3 linked regions of the Homo sapiens genome follow. The protein of the gene in region 2 interacts with the protein of the main gene of each other region in a pairwise test. Each region holds a gene or a part of one and is shown on either strand. Other genes may lie near its edges.

Evidence for each region. The genes of interacting proteins can lie anywhere in the genome.
Region 1: the proteins of USO1 (region 2) and PHYKPL interact in binary tests that used the Homo sapiens proteins (3 or more experiments, as listed by UniProt).
Region 3: the proteins of USO1 (region 2) and DUSP12 interact in binary tests that used the Homo sapiens proteins (3 or more experiments, as listed by UniProt).

The regions. Positions count from the first base shown.
Region 1 is NC_000005.10:178,229,779-178,236,613, reverse strand, and holds the start of PHYKPL (5-phosphohydroxy-L-lysine phospho-lyase), read left to right. Parts: upstream 1-3,811; 5' UTR 3,812-4,063; coding exon 4,064-4,122; exon of another isoform or gene 4,123-4,770; coding exon of another isoform or gene 4,771-4,945; intron 4,946-5,090; coding exon 5,091-5,209; intron 5,210-6,514; coding exon 6,515-6,674; intron 6,675-6,835.
Region 2 is NC_000004.12:75,804,571-75,811,594, reverse strand, and holds part of USO1 (general vesicular transport factor p115), read right to left. Parts: intron 6,456-7,024; coding exon 6,292-6,455; intron 5,110-6,291; coding exon 5,023-5,109; intron 2,643-5,022; coding exon 2,544-2,642; intron 1,164-2,543; coding exon 1,056-1,163; intron 1-1,055. UniProt on the Homo sapiens protein: General vesicular transport factor required for intercisternal transport in the Golgi stack; it is required for transcytotic fusion and/or subsequent binding of the vesicles to the target membrane.
Region 3 is NC_000001.11:161,745,391-161,752,809, forward strand, and holds the start of DUSP12 (dual specificity protein phosphatase 12), read left to right. Parts: upstream 1-4,395; 5' UTR 4,396-4,411; coding exon 4,412-4,755; intron 4,756-6,264; exon of another isoform or gene 6,265-6,277; coding exon 6,278-6,391; intron 6,392-6,475; coding exon 6,476-6,594; intron 6,595-6,977; coding exon 6,978-7,074; intron 7,075-7,419. UniProt on the Homo sapiens protein: Dual specificity phosphatase; can dephosphorylate both phosphotyrosine and phosphoserine or phosphothreonine residues. Can dephosphorylate glucokinase (in vitro).

The DNA.
Region 1 (6,835 bases), on a different chromosome or scaffold from region 2:
GGGCACTACTTACCACTCAGATTGTGGTTCCGTGAGGATCCAGTGCAGAGTATGCGAAGAGTATAGGGTGTGTCCCTCACCCAGAAGCACCCTCAATTCTGATTTTCATCTCTCCTCCTGACTCCAAGGCTGCTGAGCAACAGCCACAGTCCTGCAAAGTGTTCCCACTTCTGTCATCACAGCTGGTCCCTATAACAACTAAGAGAGGGACCGTCTTACAGATGACAAAACCAAGCACATCCAGGGTGGTCTAGGCAAGAAGGGCCATGGGCCGGGCGCGGTGGCTCACGCCTATAATCCCAGCACTTGGGGTGGCTGAGGCGGGCAGATTACCTGAGGTTGAGAGTTCGAGACTAGCCTGACCAACACGGAGAAACCCCGTCTCTACTAAAAATACAAAATTAGCTGGGTGGTGCATGCCTGTAATCCTGTAATCCTGTAATGCCTGTAAATTAGGTGGGTGGTGGTGCATGCCTGTAATCCCAGCTACTCGGGAGGCTGAGGCAGAAGAATCGCTTGAAACCAGGAGGTAGAGGTTGTGGTGAGCTGATGTCGCACCATTGCCCTCCAGCCTGGGCAACAAGAGCGAAACTCCGTCTCAAAAAAAAAAAAAAAAAAAAAAAGGGCCTGCAGTGATGGTGTCTCTGATGGTGGTGGTGCATTGCACTGATGGTGTCTGAGTCTCCAAGGACTGAAGCCTAGGGCAGGCCACAGTATGGGTGGTCACCCTCAGACTTCTGTGACATGGCCTTGCTAAGCAGAAGAGGCTCGGCCACACACTGGCTAAGGAGGGAGAGATATATCCAGTCCCCTCCTCTGTCTCCCTAAGGAACTGGCAATAAGTGGAAGGTCACATCGCTCAGCCAGTTGTCTGGGTCAACAGGGAAGCCAGTAGTGGGAAAAGGAAGAGAAACACAGTGGGGCTGTGATGACTGATGGAGGTCACTGGGTGTCCATGCCGCCTCTGGAGTTCCAGCATAACCTCACCATCTGCATGCTACACTTCACAGTTCCCTCCTTCCTCCATCCAGGAACCTCACTTGATCCCCTCACCAGCCCTGCGAAGCCCAGGGCTTGTGTGATAGGTGTCGATATGCCCATTTTACATAGGGGAACACTGAGGCTCAGAGAGGGTAGTCACCTGGCCAGGGATGCACAGCCAGGACATAGTGGCAGGCTTGGGACTGCACCTAGGCTCTTGGGTTTGTCCTCTAATACGTCCTTCTGAAACTTGTCTGGCAGAGCATGGAATCTGATAGGCAGCTCCATGATGCTGTGTGATTGGCAGGTAGATCCTCGTGGGGTAGAAGCCATGTGTTCCCCCCACTTCCCCAGTCTTCTGAGGGGGTCTCTCCTGCTCCTTTAGGCAGGATGGGGCATTCTTGGCCCACTGCTGCCCCCTTGCGGTCTCATACCTTGTATCCCGATGGCTGCAAACGTTTCAACTGCAAGCTTAAAAATGTAGAGTCGGCTGAGTCCTCAAAGTGCCCGGGGAGAGCACAGAGGCGGTAGAGGGTTCAATGATTTGTTCAAGGTCCCAGCCGAGACACTGGGGAGCACCCTGCTTCACAGCTGAGACTCAAGGACTGGGGGGCCTCAGGCCTCCTGCCAAGAAAGGCAGTACAGCCTCAAAGTACCCCTTTCTGGAAGAGAGAGAAGTACATTTACTGAGTCCTGCTGTGTCCCATGACAGCTAAACTAACCACAAGGATGACGATCCCTTTTTATAGATGAATGTGAAGGGGACTTACCAGGTCTCTTTCCTCCTGGTCCCTAGGAGACCACTAGGAATACATGGGATGCTTCTGGTTAGCACAATGATTGCAGGACACCTGGGCATTCAGGGGACAGGGCCAGGGATAGCAAACACCTAAAATGCATAGGACAGTCCTACCCAGTGACAAATCATCTCAACAAGAATCCCGGTGCCAACCCTGTTGAGAAACACCATGCCCTGGGTTCAAATCCTGACTCAGCCACTTCCATCCCCTACCCTCTTGGACTCCAACATTGCCTAGAGGGCCAGGCATGAAATAAAGGACAGATGAGTGCCTGGCACAGGGCCAGAGACAAGGAGTGGGCTTTTCTGAGCAGGAAGAAGGTGAGGCCTCCTGGTGTTCTGTGCCATGCTATAAGATACTCCTGGCCCAGGAAATGGCTCAACCTGGTCTGACCTCCAACTATATCACCTCTTGACCCAGGAGCAGGTGAGATGTTAGCCGGGCCCAGCTACAGCCTTCTCACCCTCTGCCTTAAAGCAGGAAAAGCCCCTGAGCCAACCTGATTCCTCTGAGCTGCACGGGGCCACAGCTGTGGCTGGAGTTTGGGCTGCAAGACAGGGCTGAAAGGCGGGGCCCAAATAGGACTCACACACACACAAATACACACACACACACACGGTCTGTGAGGTCTTGATCCTCAGAAACGAAGTACAGGCTGGGTATGGTGGCGTGCACCTGTAGTAGCAGGTACTTGAGAGGCTGAGATGGGAGGATCACATGATCCCAGGGAGGTAGAGACTGCAATGCTGCACTCCAGCCTGAACAACAGAATAAGACCCTTTCTTTAAAAAAAAAAAAAAATACAGGCCACAAGCAGTTAACCTCGCAGTTAATTTGGGAAGAATTTTTTCCAAAAATCATGTAAAATATTCAATTCAGCTTTACAGTTAAAAATAAGAAATTCCATTCTTTTAGGGAAGATGAAAAAGTCCTGTTGCATGGATGGTGGTGATGGCTGCACGACGATGTGAATGTACTTTTGCCACTGAATTGTATCCTTAAAAATGGTTAAAATGGTAAAATTTTGTTATGTATATTTTACACAATAAAGAAAAAAGAAACTCCAAATGTTCTTTAATAAATGCCTTAAGCGGCCGGGTGCGGTGGCTCACCCGGCCTGTAATCCCAGCACTCTGGGAGGCCGAGGCAGGCAGATCATCTGAGGTCAAGAGTTCAATAAATGCCTTATGCATCTTACAACTGTATTGGGAAGAGAAGAAGAAATCAGCAATGAGGGAGTGAAGCAGAGGCCTGGGAATCATGATGTGGACAGAAAGAAGGGACAATCAGGAGCCTCCCCTGCACCTGCTGCAGTCCCAGGCCCGTGTTCCAGGGTTCTTCAAGGCAGAAAGCCCCAGTGCCTCACCCCAGGAGGGGGCTTTTCTCTCATATCCCAGCCCCTTGGGAGGCTTTTTCTTCTCACTCCCTGGGCTGGGAGTCAAGAAGACCTCAGTAGGAGTCCAGCCTCTGCAGCCTTGCTGCGTGTCTGACAACAAAACCCTTTCCCTTTCTGGGCTTCAGGGTCACCGACATGTACCACAAGGAGGATTCCCAACCTCTCTTCTTGCCCAAACGCTGCATGATTCTCTCAGCGACGATACAGCTCGTCCGGTTCACCCTGCCTAGATTCTAGCAGGAACTATGGTGCCCTGAAGGTCAAGCCCATGGTGATCTCCTTGGTCAGCCCCAGAAGGGACCCTGGGCTCTCCTTCTGCTCTTCCTGCTGCCCCTTCATGGGGCTGGGAAAACCTAGGACCTGCTTCTCCCACCCTGAGGCCCCTACTGTGTACCAGGCCCGGGTAAGGTACCAGTCACATACTCGCACTTAGGCCTCACAGTTCATCCCATTTTATGCACAAGGCGACTCAAAGACTGAGTCTGGCCCAGAGAAGGCCTGCAGGAGCTCCGAGCCCCGCCTGGGCGCCGGGAGCAGGGGCGGGGTCGTCCGGGACCCTTTCCCGGAAGGGAGGCCGCAGGGGCCTGCGGGGCGGGGCCTGCGGGGCGAGGCCCGGGGCGCGTCCCGGAACCAGAGACGGGGCAGCGCTCGAGTTCCTGCGCGGGACTGCCAAGGCACGACCACGGGCCGGAAGGCTGCCAGGCCCAGTGGGCAAGCGAAGAAATGAACCACCGCAACGCGGGCGCTTCGGGGCGGGGCCGAGTGCGAACCTGAGCCCCAAATCCCGACCCAGGCAGGGGCGGGGCCCGGAGCGGGGCCTTGGAGGCCCAGCCCGCGCGGCGACGTCTCCGCGTGGCGTCACGGCACCGACTGACGGCCACCCACCATGGCCGCAGACCAGCGCCCGAAGGCCGACACGCTGGCCCTGAGGCAACGGCTCATCAGGTACCCGGGCGGGGGGCGGGCGGCGGGGGGCGCGGGGCTGCGCGGAGAGGCACGCGCACGCACGACGCACGCACGCACGCACTACGCACGCGCCTCCGGCTAGGAAGCCGCTGCTACCCATCCCGTCCGGCCGCTGCCCCGGCCCCGCTGGAGCTTCTAGGGCCCGAGGCGGGCGGCGCCGTTGGGCAGTCCCGGCGGGTGGTCTCCGGGGCCGCCTCCCCGACAGCGCCGTCTCCAGGCCGCCCAGTTCAGGAGACGGCCCCGCCCTCACCGCTGTTCGGCTGTGTCAGCCTCGCTTGGCAGCCTTTACTCCGGAGAAGACCTTCACCCTGGCGCCTGAGAGGACCTCACCCAGGGTGGCCCGTCAGCAGCACCTGGGCCTGGCTCGAGAGTGACCTGGGAGGGGGCTGAAAGGGCAGACAAGGGAGAGTCGGGGGAGTCGGTTCACAGGCAGCACACTTGACCTGTGAGGGGGCCCTCGGTGGGACGGTGGGTGAGGTCGCCTCCCACTGGAGCTTAGGGCTGGCACCCAGCGAGGGGCAGCAGGGCCACGTGGCTGGCAAGGAGCTGTTTAGGGCTGAGAGCCAGGCACCTAATGTTGGTGCCCTGGCCCATCCCATCGAAGACACGCGGCCTTATGGAGTCCCCATGGGACGGGGCAGCCACCTTTTCTCAGGATCCGGGAGACTGACGCGGACACATGCAGAAATGAGCAAGGAGGCCACAGAGGCTGAAAATGCTTTCAGAAACAATCCGAAGTTTCAGCGACTTGTTACCCCATCTGCTTCCTGCTTTGCAACCACCTGTGGAGTGGAGAGACAAGGCAGGGAAGCAGCACCTTGCCCTTCCAGCTCTCATTTCCCCCCCGCCACCAGAAACTGGGAAGGGGTGGGCGGGGGTCTGCGATGAGTAGACTTCACCCTTTCGGTCTTCAGACATGGCTGTCCACTCCTTGCCTGTCCCCACAGCTCTTCCTGCAGACTCTTTTTTCCCGAGGATCCTGTTAAGATTGTCCGGGCCCAAGGGCAGTACATGTACGATGAACAGGGGGCAGAATACATCGATTGCATCAGCAATGTGGCGCACGGTCAGTATCACACCTCAGGCTGGCAGGGCAGGAGAGGAAGGCAGTGCTGTGAACCTGGTCCCAAGGTGACCTGAGATTGCCGAGAGGTGTGGAGAACCTGGGTGGAGTTGAGGCACTGTCAGTATGCAGAGGAGGCTCAGCCTTCGCAATATAGCTGTGGAATTCTGCAATCTGGAGCTGTGCTAAACCAGGCAGGGGTCAGCAATCTAGGTCTGTGAGTCTAGTTCCACTTGGGACTGATGATGAGCTCACAAAGTGGCAGATGGCCCAGCTGTGACCAGCAACGTAGCACAGTGCTGGCCAAGTGCTGGGGTCATGGCAGTGCTTCAGCCCCATTGGCCATCTCAGGTGCTAGGCAAGGGAGCTGAAGTAGGAATTCAGTCATCTTGATGAGGCTGCCAGAGCTGATGGAAAGAAAGGGAGTCTGAGACTCAGCAGGCACATGGAAGATGAATAAAGTTGAGGTTAAAAAAAAAAAAAAAGCAGAGACTCTAGTCTTAGACTGCTTGGGCTCAAATCCCTGTCCCCTACTTACTAACTTGTGATCTCGGGCAAGTTACTTAATTCTCAGTGCCTCAGTTTGCTTATCTGTGAAAGACATAATGATACTAGGTACCCACTTTAAGGTGTTTGGAGAATTAAGTGTGTTAATTTATGTAGCTTGCTCTGAATGTGCCTGGCACATGGTGAGCTCTCAGTACATATTCACTGTTATTATCCTTGGCCTTTGACAATCAAGATTACCACCAGCCCCCTTGGCTGGTGAAGTGAAACCAGTTGACAGTCACCCCCCACCCCACCTTTGTCATACAAGCCTCAAAAGGCCTTCCAGCCTGGGCAACATAATGAGACCTTGTCTCTACCAAAAAAAAACTTAAAAATTAGCCAGGCATGGTGACTGGTGTCTATAGCCCCACCTGCTCAGGAGGCTGAGGTGGGAGGACCACTTGAGCCCAGGAGTGTGAGGATGCAGTGAATGCCATGATCACACCATACACTCCAGCCTGGGTGACAGAGTAAGGCCCTGTTAAAAAAAAAAAAAAAAGTCCTCCTTAAAGACATGGGCTTTCTAGACAGGGTTCTTCTGCTGAAGCGGCTTTCCTTCTGCCAGAATCTCAGGAACTCCTGGATCTGCCTTTCCAGAACCAGCTTCTCTCTCCCTGCTCTGCCTTCAGACTGCCCTCTTTCTACCTCTCCCTCTAGAACTACATCTCTTCTGGCTGGGTTTATAGCTTGGGGCTGGGGGAGGCCCAGTGGGACTGGCTGAGTGGAGCCAGCCGTGTGACGGAGGCGGCCCTCTTCCAGTTGGGCACTGCCACCCTCTCGTGGTCCAAGCAGCACATGAGCAGAACCAGGTGCTCAACACCAACAGCCGGTACCTGCATGACAACATCGTGGACTATGCGCAGAGGCTGTCAGAGACCCTGCCGGAGCAGCTCTGTGTGTTCTATTTCCTGAATTCTGGGTAAGTGGACTGTGGCCAGCCCCCGGGAAGAGGGTGAGACGGTAACAAAGACAGTCACTCACATGGGCCCAGTGTAGTGTAGCTGACCGAGTGTGGACTCGGAGAGGCAGCCCCCACTGCACCAGGCTCCTGAGATTCCCGGCTGTAGGCCCTGATGCTTT
Region 2 (7,024 bases):
CAATAATATGCTGACAGGATTTAATGTGCCTATGTTCCACGGCTTATGGAAAGCCTACATGTGGCTTGTGTATTAGCTAAATTTGTACTCCTTGTTTTGTTATTGTGATTAGATGTTGATCTTAAAAAGAAAACACAGGCCGGGTGTGGTGGCTCACGCCTGTAATCCCAGCACTTTGGGGGGGGCCAATGCGGGCAGATCACCTGAGGTCAGGAGTTTGAGACCAGCCTGGCCAACATGGCGAATCCTCGTCTCTACTAAAAGTACAAAAATTAGCTGAGCATGTTGGCAGGTGCCTGAAATCCCAGCTACTCAGGAGGCTGAGGCAGGAGAATCGCTTGAATCTGGGAGGTGGAGGCTGCAGTGAGCTGAGATCATGCCACTGCACTCCATCCAGCCTGGAACACAAAATTGAGACTCTCTCTCAAAAAAAAAAAGAAAAAGAAAGAAAGAAAACAAAAATATTTTCAATAAATTTTACTTTTATAGTACATGCATATGTATGCTTATCTTACATATTATCATTATTTGAAATAGTATTTTAAAAGCTTCATTTGTGGCTGGGTGCGGCAGCTCACACCTGTAATTCCAGCATTCCAGCACTTTGGGAGGCCAAGGCAGGTGGATCACGAGGTCAAGAGATGGAGACCATCCTGGCCAACGTGGTGAAACCCTGTCTGTACTAAAAATACAAAAATTAGCTGGGTGTGGTGGTGCACGCCTGTAGTCCCAGCTACTCAGTAGGTTGAGGCGGGAGAATTGCTTGAACCTGGGAGGCAGAGGTTGTGGTGAGCCGAGATCGCGCCACTGTACTCCAGTCTGGTGACAGAGCGAAACTCCATCTCAAAAAAACAAAACAAAACAAAAAAACCCAAAACAAAAAAAATTTTCATTTGTGCCATCTTAAATCATCAATATAGGAGTGAAAATGTTGTGAGATAAAATTACACATCATTAGCTTTCTTCATAAATCTAAGAATTTGAAAGATATATAAAATTTCCTAGAGTTCATTTCATATCATATGCAGTAAATAAAAGTTGCACCAAAAACAAACCTTTAACTCTTTGGTCTCTTGTAATAATGCTGACAGTCTTCCTTCTACATCAGTAGTTTTGGTGGCTATTATAGTCTCGGTCTCTCCTTGTACCTCAACTGATTTTGCCTGAAATTAGAAATTGGAAAAAAAGATGTCTCTTAAACATTACAATCAATATGAACTCCCAAAGGGTTATTTAATTTTTTTGCCATTTTGATATTTTACTTTCACTAACAGAAAATATAATTCCTTATGTATTTATGTGCAACAAAGTGCTCTCCACTGTCAGATGAGCTGTTCCCACATGGAAGAGCATCAAATCTCATAAGAGTACGAGGAAGGCTGGGCTAAGGTGCCTCAAGGTAGGTAAGCCCAGAAAAGTAATCAGCAAGGCAGCTCTAATGTAACTGTAACCCAGCATTTAATAAACACAGAATATTTTTCAAAGCCTTTCCTTCATAAATTTCCTATAAGTCCATACTACCACCCTAGATAGGTAGATAAATTGAGCCAAATATCATTATTAGTGAAATGCAAATCTTTTCTCAAGTGCTAGAGGAGACACTCCTGAATAACAGTTTTTCAGTCTTTCCTTGTCTTTTTTCTAAAATACTAGGAAGTCGGGTAGTGACACAACAAATATCTAAAAATGTGGAAGTAGCTTTGGAACTGTGTAATGAGTAGAGGCTGTAAGAGAGGTGCATGGTAGACAAAGCCTGCATTACCTTGATGAGACTGTTGCTAGAGATATGGACATTAAGTGATTCTGGTGAGAGCTCAGAAAGAAAAGAGCGGAGTTGGAAAGAAGCTTCATGGTCATAGTGAGAAGAAGAATGCTGGCAGAAATATGAATGTTAAAGGTGCTTTTGGTGAGGTCTCAGATGAAAACTAGGAACATGTTACTGGGAATCGGAGGAAAGGCAATCCTTGTTATAAAGTGGCAAATAACTTGGCCAAATAGTGTTGCAGTGTTTTGTGGACAGCAGAACTTGTAAATAATGAATTTGGATATTTTACTGAGGTTTCTAAGCAAAGTGTTGGAGTGCAGCCTGGTTTCTCCTTGTTGCTTAAAGTTAAATGTGAGAGAAGAGAGATAAATTGAAGAAGAAATTGCTAAGCAAAAAAGAATCAGAATTAGAAGATTTGGAAAATTCTCAGTCTACCTATATTGCAAAAGTATGAGAAGGAATGTTCTGGAGAAAACAACAACGGTTTCTGAATATTTTATGACAGCAGAAAAACTGCCAGCTTGGACTGAAGGGACAGAAATAGAATGTAATACCAGCAAAATAAACTATTAAGTAACTGAATAAACTAATCTGGTGAGACTGACTATAAAACGACTGTCACCATGAACATGAAGCCTATGTTACTAGAATACCGGCTAGTAAGTAATCTAAAGAGAAGGTGCTATCTGATGAATTTGTTTCTTTTTAATTGTGGCTAAGAAATAATACATCAACCTTGTCTTTATTACCTTCCAGAGAAAAAAGAGAAAATACTTACAAACGCTTCTGTTTTCTGTAACAGTTCCTGCTTTTCTGTCTGTAGTTTGGTGATCTCCACAGATTGTGAGTTTAACTGAGACTTTAAAGTTGCCAGTTCCTAAGAGACAAAAATAGTTGAGTCATAACATTAAATGGTATTAAATTCATCAAGGAAATATTTACAGGGAGACATTTAAAAAAATGATTTACAACCTCCTACTTTTAAAATCTAACTCTAAAGAACTATTCTTGAATTTTGGGTTCAAGATGGAAAATTCAACACATTCATTTACCTCTGCTCCCTCCTGAAATCCCATGCAAAAAAAAAAAATCATAAAAGACAGGAAGGGAGGGGAGAAGGAAGAAAGAAAGGAAGGATGGGAGGGAGAGAGGAAGAAACCTACAAAAACAAGAACAGTAAGAGAAGAGAGCAATATAATTGGGGAATTTTGAGAAAGCAAGTAACAGTGATAACTAAATCAGCACACCTGAGAAAGCTGAAAGCTAGGATGACCACTGAGAAAGTTAAGATAGTACCTGACTTACAATGAATGCATTAACTACCAGAAAGGTTAGGAACTGGTATCATTAGATACCACTGGAAGTACAGATAAAAATGAGGTTAAAAACTGCAGGCCTGGTTAAAAGACTATTTAAGAAATAGATCATCAGATCCCTGTCTCAATCTTAGGCATCAGGCAACCGTTCCTCCTTTCCTGGATGAAGACTTGAGGTTTATTATGTGGCTGGGCAAAACAGGACATCTTTAGACTAGGGACCACCAAACACAGATGAAAGCAGTAGTACTATAATGAAAACCAGGGTATTAATTGAAAGTTTTTATTAATGTTGAATTTCCAAACTTCTCACCTTCTCCTCCCCCAAAAAAAGTACAGGAAAAGAAAGGCAATTATAACAATGGCTCTCAGCAGGAGTGATTTCTCCCCATATCCCCCCATCCCCGAGGACATTTGGTAATGTCTGGAGACACTGAGTAAGTGGTGGGACAATGGCAAGTAAAAGGCTCTTTTCTTTTGGTTCTCTTTAAAATTTCTATCATGTACATTTGTGGCTTTTCTAATTTATTTTGTTTAGTTATTAAAATGAGTTACAGTTTTCTATATATAGTACTTTACTATATATTATAAAAAACAAAACTGTCACTTAAAAAATACATATATTTTAACAATCTAAAGTTTATAAAAGTAAATAAACTGGAGAAAGTAAAAAAACTAAAAGGCAATTCTCTTTTTATAAAAATATCTAATTAAAGTTTCACTGGGAAAGATAATTAAATGGCTTATTTTTACTTAGAATTTACAAACTAAGGCTATATATTAGTAACTTAATTCCCTTTAATTTTAATACAGTTCTAGTATAGGTACACTTAATAAAACCAAAAGAGCATATTAATCTTCCCACACAAATAAAACATTGTGAACAAATATTGGAGACCTGAAAATCCTCAAATGATAAGTGATTCTTTTTTTAAAAAGAGGTCAGATATTTAGAATCTACTCTGAGGTACATGGACATTATCAAAATAAGACAAAATTTCTCTATGTTCAGTCATTTCTCTTTCAAAGCAGCCATGTCAGTGGACTAGGGCCAGTTGCTTAGTGGAGAGAGAAGGAAGACAGTTAGTCCTAGGTTAGTGAGGATGGTCATTTTTTAGTATTGCTTGGATTAAAAAAAAAAAAGTATGCATTTCTTTTATAATAAGAAAGAAAGGAGGGAAAGAAGAAAAGAGAGAGAAGAAAAGAGAGGAGGAAAGAAAAACAACCCCAGAACCTGTTTAGGGATAATATACTCTAGAGTTTTCTTCCAATTGCTACATTATTTAATTGTAAGTATACAGAGTTCATTTCTCTCTTTTGATTCTTTTCTTGAACAATACATTTAAATTTTTTCATTGGATAAAGGTAAATCTGTATGATCTAGTTTAACAGGAATTTATAAATACTATAAGCAAGTAGAAAAAAGTTTAACTTGCTTTTCTAGATGTTATAAATTACCACAGAAAAAGTTTATTTTGCTTTTTAGCTGGAGTCATTTAATTGAGATATAGGTAAGTTTACCTTTCTTCTCTTTTCCAATTCTAAAATTCTATATTTTCTAGACAAAACAGTTTAAAAACCCCATACATTTAGTCAAGCAATTATCATAGTATATTAAAATTAGGCATAAGATTTTACATTTTCATATTTGCAAGTTATAAATTTAAATTTTTCCTTGTTAGTTCACTGATAATCTATAAATAACATGGGTGAGATGCTGAGATTTTTTAAAAGGAATACCTCTGAAAAATAAAAACACAATAAAAAGCAAAGTACTATTACCATATAAATAGAAACAGCTTCTGGATTTTCAAATGGCTGTCTTAACTTAAATTTTACTTACATCTGCTAATATAGTTCTAGATTTGTGAAACTATAGGGCTGTTATTCTATTATAATTAAAACATGACAAAGTAGAATTGGATCAAAGTGGAAAATTACCTGTTTTAATTCTGCAACTTGTTCAGAATCTCTAGCTGAAACTATTGCTGAAGACTGTTCATTTGTGCCAGATGTTTGGGAAGATTTCTGCAAATAGCACAAAAATAAACTATAAAATATATTCAGTCTAAAGAGATGAGAAAAAAAAACAGAACTGTACACATATAAACTATATCATATGTGCTTACCAAAAAATTCACACCAACCTTTTAATTTTTATGCCCAAGATAAAATTCCAACACAGCACATATTGTCTACAACTTTTTCATGGCTAAAAATCCATTTGTAGGCTGGGTGCGGTGGCTCATGCCTGTAATCCTTGGGAGGCCAAGGCCAGTGGATTGCTTGAGCTCAGGAATGCAAGATCAGCTTGGGCAACACGGTGAAACCCTATCTCTACTAAAATACAAAAAATTAGCCGGACGTGGCAGCGTGCACCTATAATCCCAGCTACTCGGGAGGCTGAGGCAGGAGAACTGCTAGAACCTGGGAGGTGGAGGTTGCAGTGAGCCGAGATTGTGCCACTGCGCTCCAGACTGGGCTAACAGAGCGAGACTCTGTCTCTAAAGAAAAAAAAATAAAATTTTTATTTTACCGAGCAATTTATTAAATCTAAGCATTTACCTGCGTTCATATGGAGAAAGAGCATAAAAGCAAACATTTATTAAATAATTTCCATCTATTAGAAGAGTAAATTAAATCTCACAACAATGAACTAGACATTACCACTACCATTTTATAGATCAGGAAACAAGTTTAAAGAGGTTAACTAAATTGCTTAAATTCAATGAGCCAGGAAGCATTGAAGTTTAAACAGTTTGACTCTAAAGCTCATCCTGTAAAATCTTTTTTTTTTTTTTTTTAGATGGAAAGTCTCCCTCTGTCGCACAGGCAATGAGGTGAAGTGGGGTGATCTCGGCTCACTGCAACCTCTACCTCCTGGGTTTAAGAGATTCTCCTGCCTCAGCCTCCTGCGTAGCTGGGACTACAGGTGCCTGCCACCATGCCCGGCTAATTTTTGTATTTTTAGTAGAGACAGGGTTTCGCCATATTGGCCAGGCTAGTCTTGAACTCCTGACCTCAGGTGATCCGCCCACCTCAGCCTCCCAAAGTGCTAGGATTACAGGCGTAAGCCACTGTGCCTGGCCCATCCTGTAAAATCTTAACATATGATATTCTGGCTTAAGAGATCCAAGGAAAAAAAAAAAAGGCAGGATAATGAGAACCACTCTTGAACTCTTATTTTAACTTCTTAAACATTTACTTTACCATATTTTCAATCATAGAGTCCTTTTCAGTCAGCTGGCTTTGTAAAAGTTCCTGATTACGTTTTAATTCTTCTATCTCTTCTCGCAATCTACCAATTTCTTCTGGCTGAATGCCATTCATCTGAGCCCCCTCACTGTAAGAACCTTGATGCTGATTGTCTTTTCCTGTTAGACAGACATAACATTTTAAAAGCCAACGGGAAACTTCAGTTTTTCATTTTTGAAGTAGAAGATTCAAATATGTAATTTTCTTCATTCAATTACTTTGGCAGCACTTTTGCAATCACATTTCATCTTTGCAGAATGGTATACTGATAAAAATAGTGAACTGATAGTATTTTCCAGATTTCTGGGAGAAAAAACAGCACAGCCTTGACTAAACTGCATGGTCTGGTGATCTATGATTAAGAATTACAGTAATTTTAATTCCAATTCTGTCAACTGAATATGAGAAAATAAAATCCTTTTAAAAAATCTTCACAAGCACCGTAGGATAATACTATTTAAAAGCAGTGGAGCTCTTGCCATTTTCCAGGCACAACTTAAATTTTTCATTTATTATATCATTTAGTTCTCAAATGTTATTACTATCTTCATTTTGCAGAAGAGGAAACTGAAAGATTACAGCGGTCATTCTTAATCAGCTATACATTAGAATCACCTGGTGGGCTTATACTAGTTACTGATCCCTGGACCTAATCCCAGATTTATTAAATCAGAAACACTATTGTGGT
Region 3 (7,419 bases), on a different chromosome or scaffold from region 2:
TCCTTCTTTCTCCCTTTTCCAACAACACATTTACACTTCGATGGGGCTTTCTGGCCTTTGTGCCTTTGAAGATGTTGGTCCTTCCGGTTAGAACTTCTTTCCTCATCTCCCTCCTTTTTCCCTGACAAATTCCCACTCATCCTTCAAGATGCAGATCAAGCATCACCTCCTCTGGGAGGCCATCCCTAATTACCCTCCTTCCATTAGGATTGGATGCCTCCATGTGCTCCCTTAGTACACGGCCCTTGCCTCTACTATAACACTAATTAGCTATTTACTTACTTTCACTCCAGCATTTCACCAAGTTCCTTGAGGGCAAAGACTGTCATACATCTTTATATCCTCAGCATCTACAGTCGTGCCTTATTTTACTTAGCATAATGTCCTCAAAGTTTTTATTGTTGTTGAGATGGAGTCTTGCTCTGTCACCCAGGCTGGAGTGCAGTGATGCGATCTCGGCACGCTGCAACCTCCACCTCCGGGGTTCAAGGGATTCTCCTACCTCAGCCTCCTGAGTAGCTGGATTACAGGCATGCACCACCATGCCCAGCTAAGGTTTTGTTTTCATTTTTGTTTTTTAGGATGGAGTCTCGCTCTGTTGCCCACGCTGGAGTGCAGTGGCATGAGTTCAAGGGGGTTCAAGTGATTCTCCCGCCTCACCCTCCCAAGTAGCTGGGATTACAGGCGCCTGCCACCATGCCTGGCTAATTTTTGTATTTTTAGTAGAGATGGGGTTTCACCATGTTGGCCAGGCTGGTCTTGAACTCCGGACCTCAGGTAATCTGCCTGCCTTGGCCTCCCAAAGTGCTGGGATTACAGGTGTGAGCCACTGGGCCCCGCCTTTTTTTTTTTTTTTTTTTGTATTTTTAGTAGAGACAGGTTTTCGCCATGTTGGCACGGCTGGTCTCAAACTCCTGACCTCAGGTCATCTGCCAGCCTCAGCCCCACAAAGTGCTGGGATTACAGGCATGAGCCACCGTGCCCGACCTCAAAGATAATCTATGTTGTAGCATGTGACAGAATTTCCCTCTTTTTATATGGCTGAATAATAGTTCATCATATGCATATACCATCTTTCTTTCTTTCTTTCTCTTTTTCTTTCTTTCTTTCTTTTCTTTTTCTCTTTCTTTCTCTCTCTCTTTCCTTCCTTCCTTCCTTCCGTCTTCCTTCCATCCTTCCTTCCTTCCTTCCTTCCTTCTCTCTCTCTCTCTCTTTCTTTCTTTCTTTCCTTTTTGGAGACAGAGTCTCGCTCCATCCCTTAGGCTGGAGTGCAGTGGCATGATCTTGGCTCACTGCAACCTCCGTCTCCTGGGTTCAAGCGAGTCTCCTGCCTCAGCCTCCCGAGTACCTAGGATTACAGGCACCCACCACCATGCCCAGCTGATTTTTGTATTTTTAGTAGAGATAGGGTTTTGCCATGTTGGCCAAGCTGGTCTTGAATTCCTGGCCTCAGGTGATCCACCTGCCTCGGCCTCCCAAAGTGCTAGGATTACAGACGTGAGCCACCGCGCCCGGCCCATACCACATTTTCTTTATCCATTAATCCATGATGGACATTTGGGTTACTTCTACCTTTTTGCTATTGTGAATAATGTTGCCATAAATATGGGTGTGCAAATATCTTTGAGATCCCACTTTCAATTCTTTTGGCTATATAACCTAGAAGTGAGATTGCTGGATCATGTGGTAATTCTATTTTTAATCGTTTGAGGAAACTCCGTACTGTTTTCCCTGGTGGGTGCACCATTTTACATTCCCTTCAGCAATGCATAAGCGTTCCAATTTTTCCACATCCTTGCTAACACTTATTTTCTGTGCTTGAAAAAAATACTAGCCATCCTAATGGGTGTAAGATGATATTATTATTGTAGTTTTGATTTGCATTTCTCTAATGATTAGCAATTTGAGCATCTTTTCCTATGCTTTTTGGCCTCTTGTATATCTTCTTTGGAGGAATGTCTATTCAGGTCGTTTGCCCAGTTTTTTGAAAATTGGGTTACTTGTTTTTCTGTTGTCGAGTTGTAGGAGTTTTTTATATGTTCTGCATATTAACGTATCAGATATATGCTTTGCAATTATTTTTTCCCATTCCATACAAATTCCTTTTCTCTCTATTGACTGTTTTGCTTGATATGCAGACACTTTAAAATTTGATATAGTCCCATTTGTCTATTTTCGCTTTTGTTGCCTGTGCTTTTGGTATTTTATCCAAAAAATTGAGGGAGAAGAAAAGGAAAAATCAGTTAGGTAGACAGCTAAGGCTAGCCCTTGGAGAAGCAGTCTGCCTGAAAAATCACAGCTACAAACAAAATAGAGCAGCTTAGGCAAAACTCAGGCTGCACCTGCACAGATAAGCAGGTAGGGTCCAGCACAGACGCTTTTCATTCTTCGTGTAATTGGCGAGCTCCCAGGAAAAACTTTCCTCCCCTTTTCAGGTATATACACAGTGGACTCCGTGGGAACTTGCACAGGAAGGAGGGGGGCTTACCTAAAACAAACCTACAGTGATACAAACAAGAGAACCCACGCTTTGTGCTTGCCTAGAGACATACCCACATCGGCAGAAGATAAGGGAAGTTGCACAGACAGATTTATTCATAAGAGAAGTTACTCAAACAACTATAGAGATGAGAGGAGTTTCTTATAATAGGTTTTGAATTCAGCTGTAAAAATGGCACCCCACTTGGGCTCCCCTCTCTGCTGTGGAGAGCTTTCTTCTTTTGCTTATTAAACTTTTGCTTCAACCTCACTCTTTGTGCCCATGCTCCTTAGTTTTCTCGGTCGTTAGACAAGTTCGGATAACACCTTAGACAATGAGACCATTAACCCTTACCTGTTTCAACATTTTTATCAAATCCAAGGCCATGAAGCTTTCCCCCTATGTTTTCTACTAAGAATGTTATATTTTTAGGTCTTTAATCTATTTGGAGTTATTTTTTGTGTATGGTCCAAGGTAAAGGTCCATCTTCATTCTTTTGCATGTGGATATCTAGTTTTTCCCAACACTGTTGAGGAGATTGTCCTTTTTCCATTGTGTGGTCTTGGCACTCTTTTTGAAGATTATTCTAACATATATGCAGTGTTGCAGGTGATTAGCAGCTTTCTGGGCTGGTGACATGGGTGGTAGGAAGAATTTACCAACACAGTTGTAGGTAAAGAAAGGCAGGTTTATTAGATAAAGTATGAAAATACATTGCAAGGGTGCAACAGGCAGGTCAGCAAGAGAGAAGCTGACTGCTAGGAAACAAAGGCTTGCTGGGGATTTTGTAGAATGGTGCTTATGTTGTGGGTGGAAGAGGGCTTTGTGCAGTACTAATAATGCCAGGGTTGCAGTGAACTAACTTCCATTTTTCTATCAGCTGAGGGTCTGGTGATGGCTGGGCACAGGCAGATTGTGAGTTATTTGCACAGCAGGGCTATGTGTCCTGGACCACGAAGAAAGGCAGACTTATGGCTTGTCTGCTTTCTCCTTTTGCTTCCCTTCGTCCAGCCAGCCTGACTCCTTTTCCCTAATTAGGACTCCACACGCAAGGGTTTGTTCTGTTCCAGAATAGAGACACGTCGATGTATCTATCTTTATACCAGTACTATAGCTGCTACTTCTTGACCAATTACAGCTTTAGTATCTCTCTCACCTGTCCTCCCTATACAAAAGATATATAAAATATACTCACTGTACTGAGTATCTTCCTGCAGCATTCAGTCTGGAGCAAAGCCTGCTTCCTTCAACCCTTTCCAAAATCCCCAAATAAAAGCCCAAAATCTGTAGAGGATCTTCCTAACATCCTCGTGCTGAGATGCCCTGAAATTCTCCATAACTCATGACTGAGTAATAAAACCAACTTGCTTAATTAAAGTTGGTTTCTTGTAGTCCTGGCCGGAGGACATTGACTTACAAAAATATAGGATTAGTATCTTCAAAATAAATAGACAGTAAACATCAACAAGGATTCACACCCCAATAATGAAATTGGGCAGAAAAAGGAAAAATAATCATGAAATGCACAGTAAAGATGGCTCCATAATATTGAAAAAAATTTTACTTCAAATGCATAAAATGATGCTTCTGATTCAGCTGGTGCGACATTTATTTCACATTTGAGTTCAGCTGCTCCTGATGTCTCTTTCCTGAAAATTTCAATACTAAGAGCTCGAGAAACCCTGTATTTGGGGAAGCTTATCCTTCACCATCAACTTTGGGGGTAGGGGTCAGAGGGAACAAGGGTGGAAAGGCCGCGCTGAATGGGGCCGAAGCTCCGCCCCTCAGCGATAAGTCCAGATTCCTGCGGCCGACGTGGTCCTCCGAGGGAGCAGCAGAGCCGCCGAGGCTGGCGAGTCCCAGGGGAAGGATGTTCTAGCCGGAGTCTACTCGATGGTAGGGCAGGAAGCCGCCTTGTCTCTGGGCGCGGCCATGTTGGAGGCTCCGGGCCCGAGTGATGGCTGCGAGCTCAGCAACCCCAGCGCCAGCAGAGTCAGCTGTGCCGGGCAGATGCTGGAAGTGCAGCCAGGATTGTATTTCGGTGGGGCCGCGGCCGTCGCGGAGCCAGATCACCTGAGGGAAGCGGGCATCACGGCCGTGCTAACAGTGGACTCGGAGGAGCCCAGCTTCAAGGCGGGGCCTGGGGTCGAGGATCTATGGCGCCTCTTCGTGCCAGCGCTGGACAAACCCGAGACGGACCTACTCAGCCATCTGGACCGGTGCGTGGCCTTCATCGGTCAGGCCCGCGCTGAGGGCCGTGCGGTGTTGGTGCACTGGTGAGTGGCCGGGTCAGTGGGTGACGTGCCCCGCCAAGCTTCCAGCCGGCCCCCGTCGCCCCTTACCTTCCGAGGCCGTCGGGAGGACAAGAGCGCGGTCATGCCGCGTGAACCTCCTCCCGCTGCCTCCCGCAGGAGGCGTGTTTCCAAGAGAGGAGGAGGGTTGAGGCGGGCCCCTGGTGTGTGCAGGCTTTCATTCATTCATGCTTTAGTTGGTTCTTCCTGCAGCAGCAGAGGGCGGGGGAGGTGTCATCTGATAAATGACAAATTACCTACACCCTAAGGAGTTTACAGCTCTGTTGGAGAAGCTAGACACCCACCCCGATTATTGTAATGCAGATTAGGTTGCTTGGTGTCTTGTAAACGGGATTTACAAAGATTTAGGGTTAAATGTTTTTGTTTGGGATGGGTGGCGGGTGGTTGATGAAGAGATGAATTGGTTTGGATCTAAAGGATCCCTGGGCTTTGCCTAGGGAGGAGATGGTTGCAGCAAAGACAAAAAGAAAATGGGAATCCCGCAGGGCGCGGTGGCTCACGCCTGTAATCCCAGCACTTTGGGAGGCAGGAGGATCACAAGGTGAGGAGTTCGAGATCAGGCTGGCTAATATGGTGAAACCAAAAATACAAAAATTAGCCGGGCGTGGTGGCTCTCGCCTGTAGTCCCAGCTACTCGGGAGGCTGAGGCAGGAGAATCACTTGAACCTGGGAGGCGGAGGTTGCAGTGAGCCGAGGTCATGCCACAGCACTCCAGCCTGGGCAACAGAGCGAGACTCCATCCCTCCCCCCAAAAAAAGAAAATGGGAATCCCTAAGCAGTTCTTGGTTGGATTGGAGTATAATAATCGTTTAAATTTATTGAGCACATAAAAGAAGATAGTGATGAAATCAAAAGAAGTCTGGGACCAGATTTTGAGGTCCCTGAATGCTAAGATGAAAGGAGATTGGATTTGTTTTTGTTTTGTTTTATTTATTTTTATTTTGATATAGGGTCTTGCTCTGTCACCCAGGCTACAGTGTAGTAGCGTAATTACGGCTCACTGCAGTCTCAACCTCCCAGGCTCAAGTGAACCTCCTGCCTCGGCCTCCAGAGTAGCTGGGACTACAGACCCCACCACATCCGGCTAATTTTTTGTAGAGGTGGGGTCTCACTTTGTTGCCCAGGCTGGTCTCCAACTCTTGGACTCAACCAATCCTCTCACCTCGCCTCCCAAAGTGCTGGGATTTCAGGCGTAGGTAAGCCACTGTGTCTAGCCAGGAGTTTGGATTTGTTCTGAGCCATTATAAAAATTTTAAAAATTACTGTTATTATTTTTGAATAGGTAATAGATTCACGTGGTTCAGAATTCAAAAGGAAAAAGGAATAATTATTTTGTACCTTGATAATATTTCAGAGGCAATGGGCTTATTTGAGAAGCAAAAATGAAGTGGGCCTAAACTTTACTATTAATAGGGGGCTGGGCTTTGTGTGTTTTTTTTTTTAATTGTTGCTATTTGCTGTTTTATTTTAAAGGTCTCTTTTTCAGTCATGCAGGAGTCAGTCGAAGTGTGGCCATAATAACTGCTTTTCTCATGAAGACTGACCAACTTCCCTTTGAAAAAGCCTATGAAAAGCTCCAGATTCTCAAACCAGAGGCTAAGTGGGTTCTTTTTTTATAGTAATAATTATGCTTTTGTGATATAATTTTAAGAAAATGAAACTTTATATTTCTTTATCATTACAGGATGAATGAGGGGTTTGAGTGGCAACTGAAATTATACCAGGCAATGGGATACGAAGTGGATACCTCTAGTGCAATTTATAAGCAATATCGTTTACAAAAGGTTACAGAGAAGTATCCAGGTAAGTAATAATTGCTAGTGTGTAATGGGCTTTCTAGATGACATTTACTTTAGCATTGTATGCTTTACCTTACTTCCAGCAATCCCTGAGAAACTATTGTTTCTTTTTGAAACTGATTTAGCCAGAAATAACCTATTCAAAATCACATGGTTTATAAATGGCAGGGTCAGGATTTGAATTCAGGCAGCCCGTGCCCAGAACCTAAGCACTTAAATCACTGTCCTCTCCTACCTTAGCCTGATTTCTCAACACTGGAATTTGATTTTTTTTTTTTTTTAATTTTTGAGGTTAGCACTTGTTGCCTCAATTTGACATTAACTGAATTTATCTGAAAATGCAGAGTTGATTTTGACAAATAAATACATTTTAATTATGTCATATAGAATTGCAGAATTTACCTCAAGAACTCTTTGCTGTTGACCCAACTACCGTTTCACAAGGATTGAAAGATGAGGTTCTCTACAAGTGTAGAAAGTGCAGGTAAACTATTTTATATCCTTTGGATATTTTATCTTGTCTCAGTAGCTGAAAAGTACTTAATGTTTTATTTTCTTAAATTTCTGTAGGAAGATTTTGTTTAATTGAAATTTTTAGTTCAGATCTGTTTTCAGAAAGAATATAAATTCTTAAAAAGAGAAATAATCAGATTGTAAGGGTTATTGAAAATTTAAGTAGTGTAATCAATGTTACATTATTTTGTTCTCTAAGCAATATTGCACATTTTGCTGGGCGCAGTGGCTCACGCCTGTAACCCCAGCACTTTGGGAGGCCGAGGCAGGCAGATCACCTGAGATTGGGAATTTGAGACCAGCCTGGCCAACATGG